Linked DNA regions of Homo sapiens. The protein of the gene in region 1 purifies or fractionates together with the protein of each later gene. This does not show direct contact. Each region holds a gene or a part of one and is shown in the gene's direction. Other genes may lie near its edges. The genes, in order: SLC35E3, TRAM1, TP53I11, SERINC1, ANO10, VEZT and HACD2.

Region 1 (3,500 bases):
TGCTATAGATTAGAATCAAAGGATTCTATATCCCTAAGGTAGATATTTGACATGAGATTGACCAAGGAATGATTGTAGATTAATGGACAGTTTCTTATCAGTAAGTGGTAAAGGTACCATTACAAAATAGGTATATTCCCAAAACATTCCTCTTAAAGAAAGTTGTATCTGCCCACAGTATCTTGGGATAATTTCTATGTTGTTTCTCTTATACTGCTGGAGACATTAAAAGGAGTTAAAAGACAAGTGACCAGCTATTAGCTTGAGTTGTAGAAAGATGGTTGACTCATTCATTCGTTCAGCAGACATCTTTTCTGCATTATGTTCACCCTTGAGGATACAAAGATGAAAAGCAGCTACAGTCCAGCAGTGTAGAAACACAAAGAGACAGCTGGTCACAGTAGCATATGTACCCCAAGGTAGGAGGAAAATTCTGAGGAACACCAAGGAGGAAGTGGCAGCTCTTAAAGAGGGGCGGTGAGGTAAGACTTTACGGAAAAGTTAACAATTTAAATTGAAGGGCACACAGAAATGAGCTCAGCAGGGAAGGACAGCTGGTCTTTTCCTTGCAGTGTGTGTGAAAGTCTGGAGCATTTTTGGAGAACTTGATTTGTTTGGTGAGGCTAGGCAGTAGGTGCATTGTGAGAAGACAAGGCTGAGGAGTGGGTGATACCAGATGTCAGGGTCGTGAAGCCATGCTAAGGAAGTATATCTTTATTGAGCACGCACCAGGAGAGGAGTTCAGACAGGGACTGACTTGATCATTCCCCTGTCTTTAGAAAAGTAACTGATGGCAATGAAGGGTGGGTAAGAGGGAAGGAAGGGTAAAAGGCAGAGCAGTCAGGAACCTACCTGTACTTCACAGGACAGGCAGGAAGGGCCTGGGCTAGGGCGGTGGGAATGGACAGGGAAAGGTTAAAAGGCACTCCAGGGGCGTTTTGGGGAACATAGGAGAACCTGACTGAATGTGAGAGAGAGGAAAGTAAGGCTCTGATCCCTGAGGGAGATTATATCATCAATTATTGGAAACACACAAGAGGAGCCCATTTGTAGAAAAAAGGCACCAGTTGATTTTAAACAAGTTCCTGCAGATTATATAAGTAGAGATGGCCAGGAGACTGGCCAATATAAGGTTAAGGATGCTCAAGCGATGAGGGAAGAGCAGTAGATCTCAGCAAATAGTAAAAGACATCAGTCAGGGCGATGAAAGAGGAAGGCAGGCATCTGCCTTAAAAACTGTTAAGTGCAGGAGGCAGTGAGGGAGGAGTACAAACCAGAGGGTAGTTCTTCCAAGCAAAACTTGCAGGTTCTGCAAAGAGGGCTCGCAGGAAGGGCCACAGGGAGTCTGGACATGTCCATGGAGATCATAGTGCCCTTAGGAGAGCATTAGAGGGGTGGTGGCAGGAGCCAGGCTGTGCTGCATTGAGGGACAGTGGAGGCCTGAGAGCCCCTGCTGTTCCAGGCAGTCCTGTGGCGAAGACACGCGGCTGCCTGAAGAGGCTGCAAAAGGAAAGGCAGGTGAGCACACACCCTCTGTATCCGTTTTTGCTTGCTGCTGTGCCCCAAGGAGCAGGCAGCAGAAGAATCAGTTCTTTGTCCTTCATATTCACAGAGGACTCTTAGTTAAAGCTGGCAGGAGTATGGTTCAAATTCCCTGCTCTTCTATTTTTGTCTTGATGGATTTCTATAGACTTAGAGTTTATGTAACAAGATACCCAGACCTACAGGAACAAGAAGTATGTAGAAGTCATTCAAAAGCCTAGCTGTTCTTGCCAGATCTGATCCAAACAGTCCTGTTAAATCTTCTTCAAAGCCTTTTTTTCAGTTATATTTGTGAAGTATTTTGTGGACGAATGGGATTTGAGGTCTTGAGATGTTGTTTCTACTGAATGGTATGGTATTTTAGGGTTAGTGATTATCCAGTGTATCTAGGTGTATTGGTGGGGGATGAGGAATAGTATCCACAGAAAAGTCATCCAGAGAGAGGAAAATCTCTTCTACCATTGATTGGGTTTTCCAAAGCAACTGACGAGACCACATACCTTTTCAAGCCACACACATTGGCAACCATCTCTAACCTGCCCCCATGCCCCATTGTCATCGTGTCCCCCCAACCTCTGTCTTTGTTTTTTTTTTTTTTTAGACAGAGTCTCACTCTATCACTGAGGCTGGAGTGCAGTGGCGCGATCTCAGCTCACTGCAACCTCCGCCTCCTTGGTTCAAGCGATTCTCCTGCTCAGCGTCCCGAGTAGCTGGGACCACAGGCGCCCGCCACCACGCCCAGCTAATTGTATTTTTAGTAGAGATAGGGTTTCACCATGTTGGCCAGGCTGGTCTCGGACTCCTGACCTCAGGTTATCTGCCTGCCTTGGCCTCCCAAAGTACTGGGATTACAGGTGTCAGCCACTGCTCCTGGCCCCGGTCTTCCATTTTTTAAATTTTGCCATTTTTAGAAAGAAATGAAGTCCAACACTGCATCTGTATTCCTAATCACCTGAATTTCTATTTCTCCCTTATTTTCCCAAGATCTTTTATCCTTGTAGGCCCTTATATGCATTTATTTTTCCCTATTTACTAGGATCAGGTAGAAGGAAATAGAGGACTTTTCTCCTCCTTCTAAGAATTGAGAAGAAGCTAGATTATCAGAAATTAAATTTATAGAGCTATTTTCATCCATGGTGCTTAAAGGGCATTCATATAGCTTACTGGTCTTTGAAATCTTGTAGAATAATTAGACATTTTATCTTCCCCTAGTCTATACCCCACATTCCCATCTTTGTGACTCTAGTTGTCGCATCTTTGATTATGTGATACTATTTCTTTTGTGCCAGACATGTTTTATCTCCTAATTTTCAGTGGGTAGGAGCCAAACAGCATGAATTACAAGTGAACTCAATGCAGCTGCTGTACTACCAGGCTCCGATGTCATCTGCCATGTTGCTGGTTGCTGTGCCCTTCTTTGAGCCAGTGTTTGGAGAAGGAGGAATATTTGGTCCCTGGTCAGTTTCTGCTTTGGTAAGTTCTAATTGTTTTGATATCTAAGAAACAGTATAATAATAACTCCTCCATTATTAATGTAATTTTTAGTTTTCAGAGCACTATGTCCGATCCATTCTCACATTTATCGTCATAATCACCATAAAAGGAGGTAAGGTAAGGATTCTTTTTCAGATGAAGAAATTGAGGTACACAAAGGTGAAGGGACTTGCCTAGAGTGAGGCAGCTACTCAGTGGCAAAAGCAGAACTACAATTAATGTCTTCCGATGCCTGGTTACTGTTCTGACCATGTCAAGCTAGAGCCCACAAATAATTTGGACATTTAGATTAAGTTAAATTTTTTTACAATGAAAACATAGCTTTATAATCACTATTTCGATTTTGAACATACGTAAAAATATAAAGAAAGTGAAGGGGCCAGGCACAGTGGCTCACTCCTGTAATCCCAGCACTTTGGGAGGATGAGCTGGGCAGATCGTTTGAGCCCAGGAGTTTTAGACCA
Region 2 (2,349 bases), on another chromosome or scaffold:
GGGTGGGCCCAGAAAACACTGTAAGTTCTCACTCCAGTCCATGGAACTGGTGGCCTGGCCCCCAGGTTTCAGGCTGTCCCTGGCTTGAAGAGGGGGGCTTCACCAGGGCCCACCCCTTTCTGCCCAGGAACCTGTCTGCCTCCTGCTGCCATCAACCTGCCATCCGTGGTGCCTAGGCTGGTCATGCCAAGGGGTGCCTACAGACCCACACCAAGCTGCCCTCAGCCCCCCTCGGCCTCCCTCTCGTGCTCATCAGCACCCAAAGTCCTGACAGGGCCAAGGGAGCAGGGAGCTGCCTTGGGAACTTTGGACCTGCTGAATGGCGGGACTAAAAGGGCTATAGCACAAACAAGGCTGAAATATGTCCCCCTGCTCGCCACGTTGTGGATGACAAGAAAGAGAGAAAAGCCCCCAGATCTAGGGGCTCCCTGAGCAGGCATATCAGTGCTGCTCTAATCCCAGGGTCAGTCTCACCTTCACTCCAAAACTAGCAGACGCCAGGAGCAGCAGAGTGGCCAGGCAGTGGGAGCAGGCACTTCCAAGCCTGCAGAGGTAGTAGGGCTTCCTGAACACCGAAGAACTACAGCTGGGTGGCTGCCACTGTGCCCAGGAGTGCGGGACTCCCACCACTCCAACTTTGAAAGGGATGGGGCTCCTGCTAGCTATGTGGAGCACACAGCCCTGGATGCACCTCTCACACTACAGCCAATGTCATGGCAGTAGCCACTCCACAGGGGCTGCCGCTGCCATCACTGAGAAGTGGAGGTTGCAGTGAGTGGAGATCATGTCACTGGACTCCAGCCGGGATAACAGAGTGAGACCCTGTCTCAGAAGAAAAAAAAGATAATACTATTGTTCACATTTTCTGTTTCTTAGTCGTTTCTCTTTTGGTAAATAATGTTTTTCAAGGAATTTGTCTAGTTCATATAAATTTGCAAATACATCGGCATAAAATTATTCATATGACTTTCGTTATCCTGTTAACACCTCTAAATCAGGAGTGATTCCTGTTTTTCATTTCATGTTGTTAGTAACGTAAGCCTTTTATCTTTCCTTCCATCAGTCAAAACCAACATTTGTCTTTTTGTGTTGATTTTCCTAGTTGTCTCTTTTCTGGATCATTGATTTCTATTCTTTCCTTTTCATTGGGTTTAATTTGCGGTTTTGTTTGTGATTTACCTTCTTGAGATGGATCTTTGGAGCATTGATTTGTATCTCTTGTGAATTACATTCAGTTAATGGTAAACTTTTCCTTTCAACACTGCTTTAACTGTATTTCACAAGGATTTTTTGTTTTGTTTTGGGGTTTTTTTTTGTGTGGTTTTTTTTTTTTTTTCTTTTTTTTTTAGATGGAGTCTAGCTCTGTTGCCCACGCTGGAGTGCAGTGGCGCGATCTCAGCTCACTGCAACCTTTGCCTCCCGGGCTCAAGTGATTCTCCTGCCTCCCAGGTAGTCAGGATTACAGGCACCCACCACCACAACCAGCTAATTTTTGTATTTTTAGTAGAGATGGCATTTCACCACGTTGGCCAGGCTGGTCTTGAACTCCTGGCCTCAGGTGATCCACCCACCTCAGCCTCCCAAAGTGCTGGGATTACAGGCGTGAGCCACCATGCTTAGTCTGTATTTCACAGGTTTCAATATGTCTTTTTCATTATTATTCAGTTCAATGATATCTGTGCTGGGATTCCACTTGTGCTGTGATTATAGGTGCAAGCCATTGCCCCCGCCTCAAACATCCATTTCTGTATGCAACTTTTGTATTTTTGGAGAGAGAGTCAGTCACACATACGCTACTCCATCATAGCTTGAAGAAGGCCATTACTATTAGCCAGGTGTGGTGGCACATGCCTGTAGTCCCAGCTATTTGGGAGGCTGAGGTCCCCGGGAGCATCACTGGTCCCCGGGAGTTCAAGACTGCATTGAGCCATGATCGTGCCACTACACAGCCTTGGTGACAGAGTGAGACCCTGTCTCAAAAAACAACAGTAACATAAATAAATAAAAAGAAGGCCATAATACACGCCTCCACATAGAAATTATCCTAAACACCAACTTTACTATATTGTAAACAAATATCCCCAAGGACTTCGCTGTCAAATGTGAAAAGTTTCTTTATTTCTACAGAAGGTATTTCTCTTGAATACTATTTTTAAATTCTTGTGACTTTATAGTTTTCTGTGCTGTCACTTTTTTCTGCTTTTAATAGTAGTTTTCTTTTAATTTGCTACTTTCAGTTCATTGTGTTAAAAATGTTACCAGGTTTTGTGATTGGTTAAATACTGGTAAGTAAATTTCACCTGAGTGAATTGGATTTTACATTTTCTTTTCTGAAGGTATCTTTACATA
Region 3 (4,220 bases), on another chromosome or scaffold:
ACAGTGGGAGCCTGCATGGCACAGAGTCCATGCACAGTAAACATGAGCAGCTCCTATTAACTCTAAATCTCTACAGCAACCATAGCCGGTTCTTACTATTGGTTGCTCTAGGTGACTTACTTTGTCCAAGGCCACACAGGCACTAAAAGGCAGAGTCAGGATTTGAACCTAGGTGATCTGGTTCCAGAGCCTGCTCTATTAACCGTTAAGGAACTGGTGCAGACAGAACCGAGACCTGGAGTCAGAATGCCCACCTAGCTAGATGCCTGAGGCAGCCACTCACCTCTTTCTGTCTTATTTACTTGTGAAATGGAGCATGTCATCAGCCTTGCCTTCCTTTTCCCGCAGCCCCCCACCCCGGTTCCTGGCCCACTGTGACCATCAGATCAGATGAAAGAGATCCAGGCATTTCTCTAAGGAGAGCACAGGGTGGTGGGGGTTGGGGTGGGAGAGAGCACATTATTTTCCCACCATAAGGGGTTGAAGGAGCCCAGAATTTGGGGGTGGGGCCTTGTCTGTAGGAGCCTGGTTCTCTCAGGTTGACACGCCACCAGAGAGCCTCCATGACCCCCAACCCTCATCCTCACCCCAGCCCCCCATAGGATGTGTAGAGACAAAAGGTTTGACAACTGTAGCGCCAACAAGCGTCCTAGAGCCCCAGATAAGATCCTAGCCTCCTGACAGCGCAACTGACAGCAGCATCTCTGAGGCTGGATTTTAGGGTGGAGTATGAAGAAGGTGGCCGTAGTGACAGTGGGGTCATGTTATTTGGCCAAGTCACACCAAGCAGGGAGAGAGAAGGGTGGGCCTAGGCTGGAAGCCTGAAGGCTGAGTGAACTCAAACTTTAACGACCATGGCCTGTAAAATGGGACTAAGCACAGCGCCCTTATGGGTTGCTGTGAAAATCAAATGAGTTAATACTTGTAACTCCTTTAGCATATGGTGTCTGGCATCAGAGAGTGCGCAGCAAACGGTGACTATTGTCGTGACTGTGTTATTACACACTTGGGTATCACCGCCAGCCAAAGCAGTCCCTTCCATTTCAGGCACCGGCCTGGGCCCGGGAGACACCGCAAGGCTATTTAAGATGGTGTGGTTTGCCCATCTACGTTGATCGTCCCAAGAAAGGGGCACCGTCTGCAGAACTTGCCAGGAAAGTCATCCTGGGCGGCGCGGGCCACGCCAGGGTCTCCCCGCGCGGCTTCCTCCCCCGGCGCCTTCTCTCGGGCGCGCGTGCGCCCCCTGCAGGCGGCCCCCGGGAGAGCCTCGCGGGGGAGCCGGGAGCCTGGTTTCCCCGCCAACCCCCATCCCGCCCGCCCCGGCGGCCACCCTGGGGGCGAGGCAGCCCGGCGCGTGGGAGGGGACGGCGCGCCATTGGCTTGTGCGCGGAACCGAGAGGAGGGACCAGCGCGGGCCGCCAGACTCGGTAAGCCCCGGCCGCGCAGGGCGCCGCGCGCAGTCCAGCCGGCCCGGCCCTGCCCTGCCCTGCCCTGTCCTGCCCTGCCCTGCCCTGCCCTGCCCTGCACTGCCCGGCCCGGCACGGGCGGCGCGATGTGAGGCGTCCGAGCCCGGAGCCTCCGCCTGGCATCAGCTCCACGTAGCCCAGCGCCGGCACGCGCGAGGCCCGTAAGTTCTGCTCCCCGCCGCCGCTTCCGAGCCGCGGACTTTCCCCTCCCGCCGCCCGCCGCCTGCGCAGCGCAACCCAGCGGGGCTCCTGCGGCCGACGGGACCGCAGAGGGGCGGCCGGGACCCCGCGCGCGCTAACCGGGCGCCCCGGGACATCTCGGCACCCGCTGAGCCCGCTGGGACCCCAGGGGGTCGCCTCCCCAGCTCCCCAAGGCGCCGTCCCGCAGCCCCTTCCGTCTCCCCTGCGCGCTCTCCCCTCGCCGCCCCTCCCTCTGACTCGGTTTCCCCTCTCCCCCGGCTCCGCGGTCGCCCTCCTCCTGGACTGCTTATTTCGTCCTCGGCCACTGCCTCTCGGGCTCGAGCTTTCTGCTTCAGAGCAGGAGAGAAACGGAGCGAAAGCAGTTTCTGTCTCCCCGGGGTCTGACTCGGTCCCCCGCGCTCGGTTCTCTGTCCCCTCCCCCTCCCGCCATTGTTCCCGGCAGGAGGAGTGCGCGGCGCAAACTTGCGAGTTCCCCCAGTCTTTGCCCCCGCAGGGCCGCGGACGGAGGTGGTGGCGGAGTTCCCGCTGCCCACAAGTCTGGCCCGACCTTCTGGGGTGGGGGCCTGGGGGCAGGGGCCCTGGGCCGGAGAACCCGGGGCCGCCTAACGGCTCGGAGCTCACCGCCGGGGGACACCGGCGCTGAGGCCTGGGTCTCAGAAAGTGGGTGAGTGTCTGGAGCGGGGACATCAGGGACAGATTGCAGGGGGAGGGGCGAGGCTGAGAGAGTCCCCCGTCCCCAGGCTGGAAAGGGGCGGGCAGAAACCCAGGCCGCGCCTTAGCCCAGTTAGGGGGTGGGTAGGGGACGCACAGGTGGAGACGCCCCCCACTCTCCCCAAAGTCGCGCGATCTGCAGGAAGGGTACAGTGTGGGGCCACTGGCCGGGCGCTGGGTGGGTTAGGGCCCCTGCCGTGGGCAGAACACTCGCACCTACCCGGGGGAGGCTGTGTGGAGGAAGGGCCAGAACGCCGCGCCCACCCCGGCGCGCCCCGCTGGGCGGGGCGGGGCGGGGCGCTCGCCTTGGGTCCCCTCGCTCTACCTTCCTTCGCCCTGACCCAGTCTCGGGCTTCCGCCTCTTCCTGGAGCCCGGGGGGAGTGGGTTTCTCCGCCGGAGAGATGGAGGCTGGGGCAAGAGCAGCGCGGAGGCCAAGAACCCCCAGGCTCCTCCAAAGCCCAGAGCGGCTGGCCAAGGCCCCCTCACCGCCCCACTACCCTGCACTTCCTGATTGGTTTCTTTCAAACAAACTTCTTGACGGGGCGGGCCTGCGGGGAGAAGTCACCGGGGCTGCCCACCCCAACTATGTGGTCCCTTGGACCTCCACCCCTGACGGCCTGTGGAGAGGGGACCAGGATCTGCGGCCCGCAGATCCCAGGGACGCGGGGGTCGTTTTGTTGCAGAGCCAGGAGGGGGCACTGTCCGCTCCTTAGCCTCAGCCCCAGACTTCGAGAAAGGAGAGAAAAGATTTTTCTTGTTGGGTTGTTAGGAAATAAGACTATTCTCCAGGCTTCTGTTGTCCCATCTGTAAAATGGGTCGTCTTGTTCCTGAGGCCCCCTCTGTCCCCACCATCCCAGGAGGCCCCTGCCATGGCCGCTTCTTTCCCAGTCACATGTCGTCAACTTCCTCCGTGCTTCCAAATTTGGAGTGGAGGGCTAAGGCCGAAAGCCCCTTCACCCATGTCCAGCTGTCATGACCTGCCAGTTCTAGGACTGCGACCTATTTTCTGCACAGCTCTGCCTCCAGGCCCCTTGTGGCTTCTCCAGCTCACACCCAGCCTCCCAATTTCTTTTGATAGCCCCACCTCTGTGGGAAGAAGGGCCTGCCCCTCTTGGGGTATGGGGGAGGAGGGGGCTGGATTTAACAGGAATGCCCCATAGTCACACAGTTTGGGGCTGTTCTTTACTTTTGCTTATTGAACAAAATGTTTGTGAGCATTACACCAAAAATGGCTTATGGAGCAAAGTGCCAGGGACAGTTTCAGGCACTGGGGAGACAGCTGTGGACAAAATAAAAATTTTTGTCCTCATGGAGCTGATGCTTAAAAGCAGGGGGCAGGGGGAGGCAATTCCCTAATAAAAACAATAAGCAAATTATATAGTGTACTGAGAGGTGAAGGGGAAAAGTTGTGTTGGGGGTATTGAGGCCAGGGACCGGGTTGTCATTTTAAATAGGGTGTCAGGGAGGTCTCCCTGAGGAGGTAACTTTTGAGCTACAGCCTTGAGGGAGATGAGGGAGTGAGCTGTGTAGACAGCTAGAGCACAGCCCATGCAAAGGCCCTGAGGCTGGAATGTGCCTACCCTGCAGCTAGCAGGGAGTGAGGGGCTGAGGAAGAGTGAGTGACTGAGAAGGGATGAATTCCTCCCCTTTCACAGGTGAGGGAAGTGAGGCTCAGAGACAGTATGTCAGTCACCCCAGGACACACAGGCCAGGAGAGGCAGCTGCAGGGCGGGGTGCCTGATGTTCTGACTCCTGGTCCACGATACCTCCCCGGCACCCTGTGTCTCACTGTTTATCCTGCTACACTGGCTGGACCCCTCCCAGGGCCAGCGCAGCATCG
Region 4 (3,500 bases), on another chromosome or scaffold:
CCTTAATTTGAAAGTACTTTATTTCCAAAAAATGCTAACAGTCATCTGAGCCTTCATCAAGTTGTAATCTTTTTGCTGGTAGGAGGTCTTGCCTCAATGTTGACGGCTGCTGACCGAACAGGGTGTTGGTTGCTGCAGGTTGGCATGGCTGTTTTAGTATCTTTAAACTAAGACCACAATGAAGTTTGCCCATTGATTGACTCCTCCTTTCACAAAATATTTCTCTGTAGCATATGATGCTGTTTGATAGCATTTGACCCAGAGTAGAATTTCCTTCCAAATTGGAGTCAATCCTCTTAAACCTGCTCCTGGTTCATTAAGTAAGTTTATGTAATATTCTAACTCCTTTGCTGTCATTTCAATAATATTCATAGCATCTTCATCAGGAGTAAATTCCATCTCAAAAAACTACTTTGTTCATCCATAAGAAGCAACACCTCATCATTCAGGCTTGATAATGAAATTGCAGCAATTCAGTCACATCTTCAGGTTCCACTTTTTAGTTCTCTTGCTCTTTCCACCGTATCTGTAGCTACTTCCTCCACTAAAGTCTTGAAATCCTCAGTCATCTATGAGGGTTAGAATCAACTTCTTTCAAACTCCTGTTAATGTTGATATTTTGACATTTTTTCCCATGAATCATGAATGTTCTTAATAGCATCTAGAATGGTGAATCTTTTCCAGAAGGTTTTCAGTTTACTTTGTCCACCCAGATCTATCAGAGGAATTACTCTATGGCAGCTATAGCCTTACAAAATATATTTCTTAAATAATAAGATTTAAACGTTGAAATTACTCCTTTTTCCATGGGCTGCAGAATAAATACTGTGTTAGCAGACATGAAAATATTAATCTCCCTGTACATCTCTATCAGAGCTTTTGGGTGACCCAGGTGCATCGTCATTGAGTAGTAATATTTTGAAAGGATCTTTTAGCAGTAAGTCCCAACAATGGGCTTAAAATATTCCGTAACCCATACTTTCAACAGATGTGCTGTCATCTAGGCTTTTTTCTATTCATAGAGAGGCTGAATAGACTTAATATAATTCTTAAGGGCCCTAGGATTTTTGGAATGGTAAAGAACATTGGCTTTCTCTTAAAATCATTGTCTGCATTAGTCCCTAACAAGAGAATCAGCCTGTCCTTTTAAGCTTTGAAGCCAGGCATTGACTGACTTCTCTATAGCTATGAAAGTCCTAGATTATATCTTCTTACAATAGAAGTCTATGTTGTCTTTATTGAAAATCTGTTGTTTGGTTTGGCTGCTTTCTTTTTTCTTATTTTTATTTTTTTGAGATGGAGTTTCACTCTTGTTGCACAGGCTGGAGTGCAATGGCACAATCCCCGTTCACTGCAACTTCTGTCTCCTTGGTAAGCCATTCTCCTGCCTCAGCCTCCTGAATAGCTGGGATTACAGGCCTGCGCCACCACACCCAGCTAATTTTGTATTTTTAGTAGAGATTGGGTTTCACCATGTTAGCCAGGCTGTTCTCGAACTCCTGACCTCAGGTGATCCACCCGCCTCAGCCTCCCAAAGTGCTGAACTTACAGGCGTGAGCAACCATGCCTGACCAGTGTAGCTACTTTCATTAATTTTGTTGGCTAGATTTTTAGGATGACTTGCTGTAGCTTCTGCATCAGCACTTACTGGTTCACCTTATACTTTTATGTTACGGAGACAGTTTCTTTCATTAAACCTCAACAACCAACCCCATCTAGTTTCAAACTTTTCTTCTACAGCTTCCTTCTCTCTCTCAATCTTAATAGACTTGAAGTGAGAGAGAGGGCCTTGCTCTGGATTAGGCTTTGGCTTAAGGGAATGCTCTGCTGGTTTGATCTTCTATCCAGGTCACTAAAACTTTCTCCTCCATATCAGCAATAAGACTGCTTTGCTTTCTTATCTATCATTTGTGTGTTTGTGTTCACTGGAGTGGCACTTTTAATATCCTTCAAGAACTTTTTCTTTTCTTTGCATTCGCAACTCAGCTAACTGGAACAGAAGGCCTAGCTTTTGACCTGTCTCAGCTTTTGGCATGCTTTCTTAACTAAGCTTAATCATTTCTAGCTTTTGATTTAAGTGAGAAAGGGGACTCTTTTACTTGAACAGTTAGAGGCCATTGCAGGGTTATTAACTGGCCTAATTTCCATATGGTTGTGTCTTGAAATAGGCCCAAGGAGAGGGATAGAGACAAGGAAATGGCTGGTTGGTGGAGCAGTCAGAACACACACAATGTTTGTCGATTATTTCACCATCTTATATGGGTGTGATTTGTGGTGCCCGAAAGAAATTACAATAGTAACATAATAGGTCACTGATGAGAGATCACCATAACAGATGTAATTAATAATAATGACAAATTGTGAAATATTACAAGAATTACCAAAATGTGAAACAAAGTGAGTACATACTGTTAGAAAAAATGGAACCAATAGACTTGTTTAATGCAGGGTTGCCACAAACCTTCAATTTGTAAAAAGAACAGTATCTGTAAAATGCTAAAAAAAAAAAAAAAAAAAAATAGGCAAAGCACAGTAAAACAAGGTATGTCTATGTAAGAAACTGGGTGAAATTATAAGAAAGGTATCTGATTTGCATAGAGCATATAATTGTCGTATATAGAAAGAAAAACTCTTCAAATTCCTGTTGATTCAATTGTGAACAGTATAATTTTTTCACATTATTAAATTACTCTTTTAGCCTGTGACTACCTTACAATTGAATTTGATAATTGGGCTTTGTAATGCATCTTATTATAGGCTAGTTATATTGCATACCATGAGAATAGAAACATATGTTGAAAGGAGACAAATTAGAATAGACAAAAATTATTACCTATTAAAAAGAAGAAAATGATCTCTTTTCCTAAAAAATTTATCTGATGTTATATGAATCTCATTGAGTTTACAAACTGTAGGTATTTTATCATAGGTACTTTATAACTTGGAGACCAATTTATTTTTTGTTTTTTTGTTTTGATGTATTACACAAAGATTTCCTGTTTTTTTCCAGGTAGGTGGTTAGAAAAAAATTATTAGTAGTTTGCTTTAGAGAAGGAAATAGCCTTACCTAATTGGCTTTAAGGTAAGAATCATTTTCATTAGTAAGATGGAGTTTGACAGATCTGGCTTTGCAGGAGAAAAATATGTATTTTAGACACTTTAGTGAATATTTTAGCAATCCTACTTTTTTTTTTTTTTTTTGAGACAGAGTCTCGCTCTGTCGTTAGGCTGGAATGCAGTGGCATGATCTCGGCTCACTGCAACCGCCTCCCGGGTTCGAGTCTTTCTGCCTCAGCCTCCCGAGTAGCTGGGACTACAGGCACATGCCACCACGCCCAGCTGATTTTTGTATTTTTAGTAGAGAAGCGGTTTCACCATGTTGGCCAGGATGATCTCTATCTCTTGACCTTGTGATCCGCCCGCCTCGGCCTCCCAAAGTGCTGGGATTACAGGCATGAGCCACCGCACCTTGCCTACTTTCTTCTTTATAAAAGAATAAG
Region 5 (4,245 bases), on another chromosome or scaffold:
GATACATTCCAAGATCCACAGTGGATGCTTGAAACTGAGGATAGTATAAAACTCTATGTATACTATGTTTTTTCCTACACATACATACATACTATGATAAAGTTTCATTTATAAATTAGGTACAGTAAGGGATTAACAACAATGAATAATAATAAAATAGAACAATTATAAAAATAGACTGTAATAAAAGGTGAATATGGTCTCTCTCTCTCTCTCCAAATATCTTATTGTTCTGGCCTCACCTATTTTCAGACTGTGGTAGACCCTGGGTAACTAAAAACACTTAAAGCCGGCAGGGCGCGGTGGCTCACGCCTGTAATCCCAGCACTTTGGGAAACCGAGGCAGGCGGATCACCTGAGGTCAGGAGTTCTAGACCAGCCTGGCCAACATAGTGAAACCCTGTCTCTACAAAAAATACAAAAATTAGCTGGGCATGATGGTGCGCGCCTGTAATCCCAGCTACTCAGGAGGCTGAGGCAGGAGAATCGCTTGAACCCGGGAGGCGGAGGTTGCAGTGAGCCGAGACTGCGCCACTGCACTCCAGCCTGGGTGACATTGCGAGGCTCTATCTCAAAACAACAACAACAAAAAGTCAAAAAGTGTGGTGGACAGAAGAAATAGGAGAGCAGGTAAGGAAATGGTGGGGTGAGGAGCAGATGAGAACAGGTATTAAGTAGGATGGTCAGAAAGGGCCTCAGGGAGAAAGTGAGAGCCCAGCAAACACTGAGGGAGGTGAGGAAGTGAGCCAAGCAGCCAACCGAGGGAAGAGCTTTCTGGGCAGAAGGAATGGCTGGGGCAGACTCTGAGCCTGGAGGTGGAAAGGTGTCTGGCGATTTCTAGGAGGAGCAAGGGTTTTGGGATTTGGCTGTGGTTGGATGTTAGGTTTTAATTATAAAAGGATCTGCGTTTTTCACAACTTGAAAGTGAGCTACAGTTAAAATGAGACTTGTTCTTATACCTGAAAGTGACCAGAAAATTAGGTTCTGGTCTTTAAGAGATGGAAGAGGGAAATGTGAAGGGGCGTATTCCTTTCCCCTGCCCCGACCGCTCGCGGTTGGAGAGCCCAGCCACATGCCGCCCCGGCTCGGAGTGACAGCCCAACCAGGCCTCTGCCTTCTCGGCCGCGCCTCTCCCGCTGCCGTCCGGATTTCGATGGGTGGTACAGTACGTTAGGCACGCCCCTCCCTTTCTCCCGGCCTGGTCTCCTGTTCCAGGCGACAGCCCAATGAGGGCTGCCTTTTTTTCTTCGGACCGGTTCCAGTCTAGGTTCTCGTCCACTACGATCGCCCAGTGAGGCCCCGCCCCTCCCACCGCAGTTCCGCCCCTCCCGGAGCTACCGCCCAGTGAGGCCCCGCCTCTCCCGCCGCGGCCCCGCCCCCCTGCGTGTGACCGCATCTAGGCCCCGCCGCGTCCGCCACGCCCAGCGCTCGGCGGCGCCCGCCCCACTGGCCTGGCCCGCCCCCCGCACCGAGCACTCTTTCGCCCGGCCTCCGGTTCTCGCCGGCTCTCGGACCCGCCTCCGAAGACGTGGAGCGCTGCGGCGGCTGGTGAGTCGGGGAGGGCACCTCGGACCCCCCAGCTGTCCGCAGCAGAGCCCGGCCCCTTGCAGCCACAGAGCCCCGGCCGCTGCAGGCTCCAGGAGCTCCGCCTGGTCGCCGCCCTGCGTTCCCGGGCCGCCTCCCGGTGCCAGCACCCCTGGGGATGGGAAGTGGGACCAGGATGGGCGCGGGGGCTGTGGGGGCAGGGACGAGTGAAGGTGTTGCGGGGAGCGGCGGTCGCAGGGGAGGGGAGAGGTTTGTGGAGGGGATTATGGGTCTGGGGCGAGGGTTTGAGTCCTGAGAGAAAGGCGGTGAGGCGGAAATTTGGGGCTGGTGAAGTCAGGATGGAGGATGTTGGGGGCCTCAGCGCTTTGGGGAAGGAGGCAGTGAGTGGGGTGGTCGGCGGAGCGGAGTGAAGGGTGGTTTTTAGAAGGGTCAGCTCGCGGGTCCCGGGGTTCTTGCTTCCCGGGCAGTCCGGGGATCAGGGCGGACTAGGCTGTCTCCAAGCAGGTTTGGCCGGAGCGGGCTTGCAGGATAATGCTCACATCGAGGTGACTGAGTTTCCAGGCTTTTGACTGGGACATACTGTACAGTTTAAATAATAGATACCTGTCTGGCTAGTGCCTGGGACACCTGAGAAACGTGGATGGAATGGGGTTCTCCCCTATAGGCAGCGTCTGATTTTGTGGGTGCCTTCACAGCACCAGCATTGGTGTGCGCTGCCTTCTGTAAAACCTTATATTCCAGCAGGACGGTGTATGGAGATCCCAGACTTAAAAAGTGCAGCTGAGGTTTATTCAGACTCAAGACACAGTTGTATCATATTGCCTTAAATCCTGCGGAGTTTAAATCTAATCCTGTGGGGTTTAAAGCGGTTAAATCCACTTTGTAGTGTCTACTTTTAATTTAAAGTCATACAAATCTAGAGGACTAGATGTTTTCTAAGGGCCCATTCTGCATGATAAACAGTTTAAAATTCGCTATGGAAAGTAAATCATCTGTTCTGAACAGCTGTTGCTGAAAGAATCGTAGAGTTGCAGATGAATGAAATTTGAAAGATCTAAAATAATGGAAGGGCATAGAAAAGTCTTGATAAATTGAAGTGTGTAAATGCACTTAAACCCACTGAAACTTTTTTCTTTTTGTTTTTTTTGAGACGGAGTCTTGCTCTGTCGCTCAGGCTGGAGTGCAGTGGCACAATGTCTGCTCACTGCAACCTCCGCCTCTCGGGTTCAAGCGATTCTCCCGAGTAGCTGGGATTATAGGCGCCTGCCACCATGCCCGGCTAATTTTTGTGTTTTTAGTAGAGATGGGGTTCCACCATGTTGGCCAGGCTGGTCTTGAACTCCTGACCTCAGGTAATCCTCCCACCTCGGCCTCCCAAAGTGCTGGGATTACAGACGTGAGCCACTGTGCTGGCCAACTTTTTTCATTGTAGACAACTTGGAAGACAGAGAAAATTATAAGGATGAAAATTAAAATCTGTAGTTTTGCCACATGTAATAACATTTTGATGCATTTCTTCCTAATTTTTGTATTTTTGTGTATATGAATGTACACAAAATTAGGGTAGTATTGTTACCTAATTGGGGTAATATTGTTATATTACTTCATACTTTTGCTTTTTCTTTCCACCTTACATTTTCTCACTTAGCATTTTTGTGGATCAAATTCTTCTTAAACATCTTTGAAAATGCTTGTATAATCATTCATCATGTGGATTCATTCTTTTTTTAAATATTAGAGTTTTAGTTATGTGCCTAGTACTGTGCTTGGAGGTGAAAAATCAGTGTTCCTCAAATGGATATATTTGTCATGGCTTGCATGAGAGCTGTACTAAGCCTTTTTCTCATCTGTCAGTTAAATTGTCTCTAGCCTTCTGTTTTTATAAGCAGTAAACCTTTGTTTTAATGGTTAAAAGCTCACAATAAATCTCATGTCATGTGTGAATCCAAAACTGTTATTTTTAATGTGTATGAGTTTTTGTGTGTATGTGTTAGGAAATTACGGAATTTTGGGTGGAAGAGGATTTTTTTTTTTTTTTTTTTTGGACAAGGTCTCACTCTGTTGCCCAAACTGCAGTGCGTGCAGTGGTGCAGTCACAGCTCACTGCAGCCTTGACCTCTGGGGTCAGGTGATCCTCCCATCTCAGCCTCCTGGGTAGCTGGGACTACAGGCGAGAGCTTCACCGTATCCAGCTAATTTTTTTTTTCTTTTTTTTTGTATTTATTGTAGAGACAGGGTTTCGCCATGTTGCCCAGGCTGGTCTTGAACTCCTGAGCTCAATAGATCCACCCCCCATGGACTCCCAAAGTGCTGGGATTACAAGCCTCAGCTACTGTGCCCAGCCCCTGGAAGAGGCTCTTTTTAAAAAGTTTCTTGTTTTGAAATAATTTTAGATTTACAAAAAGTTGCAAAAATAGTACAAATTTCCTTATGCCCTTCACCTAGCTTCCCCAGATGTGAACATCTTAGATGACGATGGTGCAATTGTTGAAACCAGAAAATTGACATTGATACAATTCTATTAGTGTAATCTACAGACCTTATTCAAATTTCACTAATTGTCCCACTAATATTTAGGATCCAGTCTGAGATCCTACACTGTATTTAGTCGTCATATGTCCTTAGCCTCTTTTAACCTGAGCATCCTCCTAAACAGGATGACCTGGTGCAGACCTGTAAAGTGAAGCAGGCCTGCTAGAA
Region 6 (3,500 bases), about 26 Mb from region 1:
TAAAGCCACAACTTTTTTTTTTTTTTTGACAGGGTCTTGCACTGTTGCCTAGGCTGGAATGCAGTGTTAACCATCATAACTCACTGCAGCCTCCAACTCCTGGCTCAGGTGATCCTACCACTTCAGCCTCTCAAGTAGCTGGGACTACAGGCAGGTGCCACCATGTCCAGCTAACCTGTAACTCTTATCACGGGATTCTTCTTGGGAAAGGCTAGGAGCAGCCATCTTATTTCCTGTGTTTGGGCTTTACCACCTATGAGACCTGTAACCCCCTCTACCCCTATTACCACTTTCATTCAACTTAGATCTCAGGCCACTGACTGAGAAAGGCCTTCTTTTGAAGAGCTGAAAGCTTGTAAGGCATGTTTTCTTGCCATCTACCACTTGATTACTCAGCCAGTGGAACATATTTCAGGTTCTGCTGAGTCAGCCCTACTTCTAGATACTAAGTACTGTGTCACCCATACATCCTAATGCACAGTGACTGGTTTTTGGCACCAGGGACTTGTTTCGTGGAAGACAGTTTTTCCAGATGGAGGATGGTTTCAGGATGAAACTGTTCCACCTGAGATCATCAGGCATTAGTTAGATTCTCATAAGGAGCTCACAACCTAGATCTCTCACATGCACATTTCACAATAGGGTTCCTGCTCCTATGAGAATCTAATGCTGCCACTGATCTGACAGGAGGCGGAGCTCTGATAGTAACGCTTGCTCACCCACTGGCCCACCATCCTGCTGGCCTCGGGCTGTATTCCTAACAGGCCATGGACCGGTACCAGTGCTGTGCAGGCCTGGGGGTTGAGGACCCCTGTTAATGCAGTAAACAGGAACCTGTCTATGTGCCATAAGCAGAAAGGAATTTAACATAGGGAATTAATGGTTAGATTATCATCGGAAGGCCTACAGGATCAAGCTCTATCAAAGTTGCTATATGCTCATGAAGACAAGAGCACGTGATCATGATCATAGTTACAATCCAGGAATTAGAAGCCATCACCACTTTGGGAGTCCGAGGCGGGCGGATCACCAGGTCAGGAGATTGAGACCTTCCTGGCTAATGCTGTGAAACCCCATCTCTAGTAAAAATACAAAAAGAAATTAGCCGGGCTTGGTGGCGGGCGCCTGTAGTCCCAGCTACTCGGGAGGCTGAGGCAGGAGAATGGCGTAAACCCAGGAGGCTGAGCTTGCAGTGAGCCAAGATCGCGCCACTGCACTCCAGCGTGGGCGATAGAGCAAGACTCTGTCTCAAACAAAACAAAACAAAACAAAACAAAACAAAAGCCATCACCACATCTGCCTCTCAATAACCTAACAAAGTGATACCTTGGTATTGGAACTTGGAGTCTCTCCACTGTCTCTACCACACCTGCAGCTGTGTTATCAAGAAGCTGGAGAATCCATATTGGAATACTGCTATAGAAACATTTTGCCTCCACAGCTTTGTTTCATAGCAAAAAAAAAAAAAAAAAAAAAAAAAAAAAAAAGAGAGAGAAGGATGGAGGGAAGAGAAGGAATGAGAGAACAGACAAATGAAAGAACAAGGCCAGCAGTGGGGGGATCACTTGAGGCCAGCAGTTTGAGACCAGCTTGGGCAATATAGAGAGACCTTGTTTCTACAAAAAATTATTTTAAAGAATTAGCTGGGCATGGTGGCATGCATCTCTAGCCCTAGCTACTCAGGAGGCTGACGCAGGAGGATTGCTTAAACCCAGGAGTTCAAGGCTGTGATGAGCTTTGATGAGGCCACTGCACTCTGCCTTGGTGACAGATTGAGACTTTGCCTTTATTTAAAAAAAAAAAAAAAAAAGAACAGTTGAAACAAAAGCCAAAGAAGCAAAAAGTGGACTTCTGCTCTTCTTCCACCTTCCAAATCTCTTACACCATACACCTACTTGGGGAAACCCTGATTTATATCTAGAATCCTAGCTGCAAGATAATTTGGGAAATTTCAGATGTAGCTTTCCTGCCTCTGTAACACAAGAGATACATTGGAAGAAGGATTATAGAATAGAGATTGAACAAGCCAAGCCAATTTACCATATCTATCTTAGGGCTGAACCTCTCTTCCCCTAAGAAAATTTAACTGTGATTTTTTTTTTTTTGGTATATTTGTTGTAATACTGTTATTTTAATGATCTTCAGATAGAAATCAGAGTCATTCATGTATTGAGACTTACCTAGAGAATTACATGCTGCATGAAAGTTAAAAACTTAAATCATGCAGAGTTTTGGATAATATTCCAACAACATCCCTTCCCTTAAAACAAACTCTTTGAGGTATCTTGTTTTAATTTCTGTTTCTTGGATTATTTGTAAATTTTACTGTACTATATTTTGGGTCATTTGTATTTCTCCTTCCAGTGATCACTTTGAGTCCTCTTAGTCTGAGAGGACTAGATGTGCACTGAAAGATGATAATATAAGAGAAGGACTAAGGGAGGAAAGAAAGAGTGAAGTGCCCAGGCCCAATTCCCATTTCTTGCCCTAGAATCTGATTACCCATTTTATCAGAGCTAGATTCCGTATGTACTTTCAATGTTAATTCCATTATATTGGAGCCTGACTCCTCCTCCTATAAGATCATTTGTTTTAATTAGAATCTTCTACCATCATTCTACTCTAAGAGGCTGAATTGAGAAGGACAGTATAACCTCAGTCTTGGACCTCTCAGGCTAAACAGCAACAGAACAAAGTTTAGAAAATGATGGATACTATGTCTAATGTGAATATTAACAAAATAAGCATGAAATACCAAGATTGTTGTTTTACTCTGTTATCGTCATCATTAATTACAGTGTTTTGAGAGTAAGAATTCTCCAATTACTTTAGAAAGGTATTAAAGTTCTGATGTTGCTTTCTTAACTGTTTTTTAGACAGGGTCTCACTCTGTCACCAGGCTGGCCTCCAATAGAACAATCACTGTTCACTGCAGCCTCCACTTCCCAGGCTCAGGTGATTATCTCATCTCAGCCTCCCAAGTAGCTGGGACTACAGGCATGTGCCATCATGCCCTACTAATTTTTTCTTTTTTTTTTTTTTTTTTGAGATGGAATTTTGTTTTGCTCTTGTCGCCCAGGCTGGAGTGCAATGGCGTGATCTCGGGTCACTGCAACCTCCACCTCCCGGGTTCAAGCGATTCTCCTGCCTCAGCCTCCCAAGTAGCTGGGATTACAGGTGCATGCCACCACACCCTGCTAATTTTTGTATTTTTAGTAGAGATGGGGTTTCGCCATGTTGGCCAGGCTTGTCTCGAACTCCTGACCTCAGGTGATCCATCCGCCTCGGCTTCCCAAAGTGCTGGGATTATAGGCATGAGCCACCATGCCCGGCCAATTTTTTGTATTTTTTGCAGAGAGTGGGTTTTGACATGTTGCCCAGGTTCAAGTGATTGTTCTGCCTCGGCCTCCCAAAGTGCTGGGATTACAGACATGAACGACTGCACCGGGCCTTAAATTTTAATTGCAGAAACTTCAGGTCATCTGTCTTAAACCTTGCTA
Region 7 (3,946 bases), on another chromosome or scaffold:
CCCCCACCACGAAACCGGTCCCTGTTGACCAAAAGGTTGGGGGCCGCTGCTCTATATAATCCCTGGGAGACTGACGACTTTGTCTCTTTCACTTAGTGCCATGAACTCCAGGGCAACTTTGTGGACGCTCCATAAACACTTGCTGGAATGAACCCATAAATATTTTATACTACCACATATACAGTAATACATTTAAGGAGCTGCTTGGGTGTGTAAAAAATTGCAGGGGACGTTTACAAATAAAGAACCTCCTGAAACAAAGCAATGAATGGAAAGTGGGATCAGCTGGTTGAAGCAATGCCCACAAGCTGCTCCAGCTTCCCAAAGCAGAGAGGTTTTCCACCTAAGCCAACATCCTTTTATTTTTAGTCACTATAGCTATAAATCTACTCCCTTACCCCGCACCTCACTCTCAGCCGACAGCCCAATGGGCTTATCCTCCTCTCGCCCTCACGATGAGCGAGTCCACGCGGTCTCAGGCTGGAAGATGCACTTGAACACCAGCCAAGCACTCACGGACGACACTGGATTCTAGGCCGCCTGGGCTTCTCCACTGTACTAGGAATGTAAAATCAAAAGTCAGAAAGAAAACTTCGGAGGTGGAATCTCCAACCCGGCAACGGGTTAGGAAGCAAAGCGCACCTACCAAAGGGCTGGTCCCTGCAGCCTCAAGGGCTGATGGGAAGTGAATCCACCGTCAACCGCCCTGATCCAAAATGGCAGGATACCGGAGCAATAGTGTTCAGGTGTGAAGATAGGGCAATTGAAGAAGGGAGAACGAAAGCATAATTGTTTTGATTCAACATGGAAGCAGTGATTATAGGAGGGCGAATAGCGAGGGACGACGCAACATCCAGCTGGCAGAAGCAGCGGGCCTGGAGAGGGTGGCTACATTGAACTAATCCAAGATGGCGCCGAGGTTGTAACCGGGAGCGCCCAAGAGGCGGGAATTACCCTGATCCAAGATGGCAGTGGCAACTGAGGCAAGCCGAAAGACGGGAGCGCCAGGAGCGTCTTTGCCCTCAGCCAAGATGGCGGCTGCCGTGGACCCTGTCCCGGCTCCGCCCCGCGGCCCTGGCCCCGCCTGCCCCTCGTCCCTTCCTCCGCCCCCTCTCCTCGCGTAGTCCGGCCCGAGCCGCTCGCGCTAGGAGAGCGGGCTTCGGGCACTTGACATGGCGGCAGTGGCGGCGACTGCAGCAGCGAAGGGGAATGGGGGCGGCGGTGGCAGGGCCGGGGCCGGGGACGCCAGCGGCACGCGGAAGAAGAAGGGCCCGGGGCCCCTGGCCACGGCGTACCTGGTCATCTACAATGTGGTGATGACAGCCGGGTGAGGCTGGGGCTCGGGGAGGCGGGGAGCCAGCGCGGCCGGGGAGGGAGCCCTGCGGCCAGCGGCGGGGCGGATAGGATCGGCGCGGCCCGCCGCAGGCAGTGCATTCCCGGCGGGGGGTGCCCGGGACCCGGTACCTGGGCGCTGAGGGCGGCCGAGCGCTGAATCGGCCCCGGTGGCTGCCCGCGAGCTCCCTCCTGCGCTGGGGGTCGAGCCAAGTTCCCAGGCACTGGGGCGCGGGGACGGCTGCCGGGCGCTGGCTCGCGAGGGCCGCGGGAGGAAAGGTGGGGCTGGCCACAGGTGCGGGGCCGGGGGCAGCGGCCGGACTACCTGCGGCGCGGAGCCCGTCCTGGGCGGCCAGATTCGGATGTTGAACGGCGCCAGCATGGGGAGTGGAGGAGCTGTGGCTGCAGAGTGACCATTCATTTGGGCGGCTGTTTTCAAAATCTGGGCTGCGCTTTAATCTGAAAGGTATTGGGAAAGCGTTCAAAGTTTTTGGCCAGCGACATGAGCAGAGCTAGGCTTTAGATGAGTTTAGACTTTTAGGATGGGTTGGGGTGGGGAAGAAACTGGGGAGTAGAAGGCAGAGTTACTGGAAAGGGGGAGAATGGACCCTCGAAACGGTTTTACCCATCTTCTGTCTCTTTCATTTCAGTGCATCCCTTATCCCGGCGGGTTTTTAGTTCAAGCTCTGCCACTAACTAGCTGTGTGACTTTGGATAAATCATCTTATTTCTCTAGCCTCCGTTTTTTCATTTGTAAAACTAAAGGGTTGGTCTGGGTGATGAAGGTTCCTTCAGCTCTGCAATTCTTTATCTTGTCATTTTGGTGAGGAGGATCACAGCATCAGACAGTTATATATTTTTAAGTTATCTTCATTTGTAATTTTTTAAGAAGTCCTAACATTTTATTATGAAAAATTTCAAACATACAGAAGAGTTGAAAGAATTGTATAGTGAACATCCATTTTTATTTAAAGTAGGTGATACATTGTTAGGGTTAAAAATGAAAAACATGAGGGAATACAGTGAAAATCTTTCCTCCCACCTTTCCCTTCTACCCAGCTCCCCTCCCTCGAGGCAGTTAATTTTGTGTATCCTTAAGATGCTGATGCAAGCAAATATGTTTATACATCCCCCTATCCCTTTTTAAAATAAGACAAATGCCAATATATTAATATTTTTACAGTTCAGCACCTTGCTTTTTTTTCACGAAGAAGAAAATATATCGTGGGAGGATCATATATGTATTGCTAGTATTAGAAATGGTAGGTGTTGGAACCTAGGCTCAGAGAAGTTGTGACTTGCATGAGATCATAGAACTTGTTAGTAGAAGTTCCAGATCTAGAAATCATTTCTCTTGACTCACAGGTCAATGAAGAACTAGTACAGATACAAGCTTTATATCACATCAGTGGTCACATAGATTGATTTTTAAAAAAACATCCAGGAATCTCACTGTGTGTATTAATATTTATATATAAAATTCTTGTTGTCTTAGCAAGAGCCGGTGAGGGCATTGGACTGGAGAGGGATTTTGAGGTACATTGGTAAGAAGAAAGAAGTCTATTCCTGAGCAATGAACATAGAGAATGGGGTGGAGGGTAAGGAGTGGTATCTTAAACCAGGAAGATAAATTGGGATTGTGAGAGCAAAGTAAGCTTTTTTTTTAAGGCTGTTAATGGTTGTACCAGTTACACCATTAAATAATTTCTTCTTTTACAAACTCTTACTTGATGTCCTTATGTGATAGTTTTTGGAAATAGCATAGACCACACACACCCCATTGCCTAGTTGATACTATACATTTATCTAAATCCTTCCAGGAGACATACCTTAATAAAAAGGTCCATTTGTTTTATTATGGAACTTAACAAAACATTGTGTTTATTTTTGAGAAGGACAGTGGAACAAAAATATAACATTCACAGCTGTATGCTTAAGTGCTTTCCTGTTTCGTGGTTTGTATTGATCTGGCTTTCATTTCTGCATTGATTTTAGGAAATTTGGCTAAAAAACTTTTTTTTTTTAGCAAGAGCCCTTTATTCGTAATTTTAAAAGGATAGATTTTAAGGTATGGGTAATTGTTCCAGTGAGACAATTATAACAATAGTTTAAAGCATCTTCTTTCCACCCTGTAATTATTAAAAACCCTTTAACTGCACAGGCTGTTTAAAATTTTCCTTTAACTGTTTTTTTCTCGTCTTAGATTTTCTTGGCACCTGATTTAGTGGCACAAGGACCATTTTAGCTTATTCCTTTCCTTTTGGCCTTGATCTCAATAGCAAAGTTGCCAAAAAAATGAGCTCCAGATGGGTGAGGTGCCACTATGCTTTCACTGAGCCCTCTTGGTAAGGTGCTGTCGGTGTTGCAACATTTCAGTGCATTACAGCTTGGCATTTGAGAGCTATCGTCCATAAATCCAGGTTACTCATGCTTGAGGTCACCTTTAGCAATATCTTTTATTGCCACAGCTGTGTGTTAACCTAAATGCTACTTTTTTTATTTTTATTTTTTCCTGATTGCTGTTTTCTCTTTTACTAGGTGGCTGGTTATAGCGGTTGGTCTGGTCCGAGCATACCTGGCTAAGGGTAGCTACCATAGCCTTTATTATTCAATT

What was found.
Region 2: the proteins of SLC35E3 (region 1) and TRAM1 purify together in Homo sapiens (affinity purification with mass spectrometry; one large-scale study listed by BioGRID and IntAct). This does not show direct contact.
Region 3: the proteins of SLC35E3 (region 1) and TP53I11 purify together in Homo sapiens (affinity purification with mass spectrometry; one large-scale study listed by BioGRID and IntAct). This does not show direct contact.
Region 4: the proteins of SLC35E3 (region 1) and SERINC1 purify together in Homo sapiens (affinity purification with mass spectrometry; one large-scale study listed by BioGRID and IntAct). This does not show direct contact.
Region 5: the proteins of SLC35E3 (region 1) and ANO10 purify together in Homo sapiens (affinity purification with mass spectrometry; one large-scale study listed by BioGRID and IntAct). This does not show direct contact.
Region 6: the proteins of SLC35E3 (region 1) and VEZT purify together in Homo sapiens (affinity purification with mass spectrometry; one large-scale study listed by BioGRID and IntAct). This does not show direct contact.
Region 7: the proteins of SLC35E3 (region 1) and HACD2 purify together in Homo sapiens (affinity purification with mass spectrometry; one large-scale study listed by BioGRID and IntAct). This does not show direct contact.

What each region holds. Positions count from the first base shown.
Region 1 is NC_000012.12:68,749,176-68,752,675, forward strand, and holds part of SLC35E3 (solute carrier family 35 member E3), read left to right. Parts: intron 1-2,856; coding exon 2,857-3,015; intron 3,016-3,500. UniProt on the Homo sapiens protein: Putative transporter.
Region 2 is NC_000008.11:70,575,068-70,577,416, reverse strand, and holds part of TRAM1 (translocating chain-associated membrane protein 1), read left to right. Parts: intron 1-2,349. UniProt on the Homo sapiens protein: Involved in the translocation of nascent protein chains into or through the endoplasmic reticulum (ER) membrane by facilitating the proper chain positioning at the SEC61 channel.
Region 3 is NC_000011.10:44,948,084-44,952,303, reverse strand, and holds the start of TP53I11 (tumor protein p53-inducible protein 11), read left to right. Parts: upstream 1-1,420; 5' UTR 1,421-1,627; intron 1,628-2,143; exon of another isoform or gene 2,144-2,331; intron 2,332-4,220.
Region 4 is NC_000006.12:122,447,808-122,451,307, reverse strand, and holds part of SERINC1 (serine incorporator 1), read left to right. Parts: intron 1-3,500.
Region 5 is NC_000003.12:43,619,212-43,623,456, reverse strand, and holds the start of ANO10 (anoctamin-10), read left to right. Parts: upstream 1-1,445; 5' UTR 1,446-1,548; exon of another isoform or gene 1,549-1,684; intron 1,685-4,245. UniProt on the Homo sapiens protein: Does not exhibit calcium-activated chloride channel (CaCC) activity. Can inhibit the activity of ANO1.
Region 6 is NC_000012.12:95,224,307-95,227,806, forward strand, and holds part of VEZT (vezatin), read left to right. Parts: intron 1-3,500. UniProt on the Homo sapiens protein: Plays a pivotal role in the establishment of adherens junctions and their maintenance in adult life.
Region 7 is NC_000003.12:123,582,254-123,586,199, reverse strand, and holds the start of HACD2 (very-long-chain (3R)-3-hydroxyacyl-CoA dehydratase 2), read left to right. Parts: upstream 1-1,146; 5' UTR 1,147-1,172; coding exon 1,173-1,327; intron 1,328-1,582; exon of another isoform or gene 1,583-1,798; intron 1,799-3,870; coding exon 3,871-3,946. UniProt on the Homo sapiens protein: Catalyzes the third of the very long-chain fatty acids (VLCFA) elongation four-step cycle (condensation, reduction, dehydration, and reduction).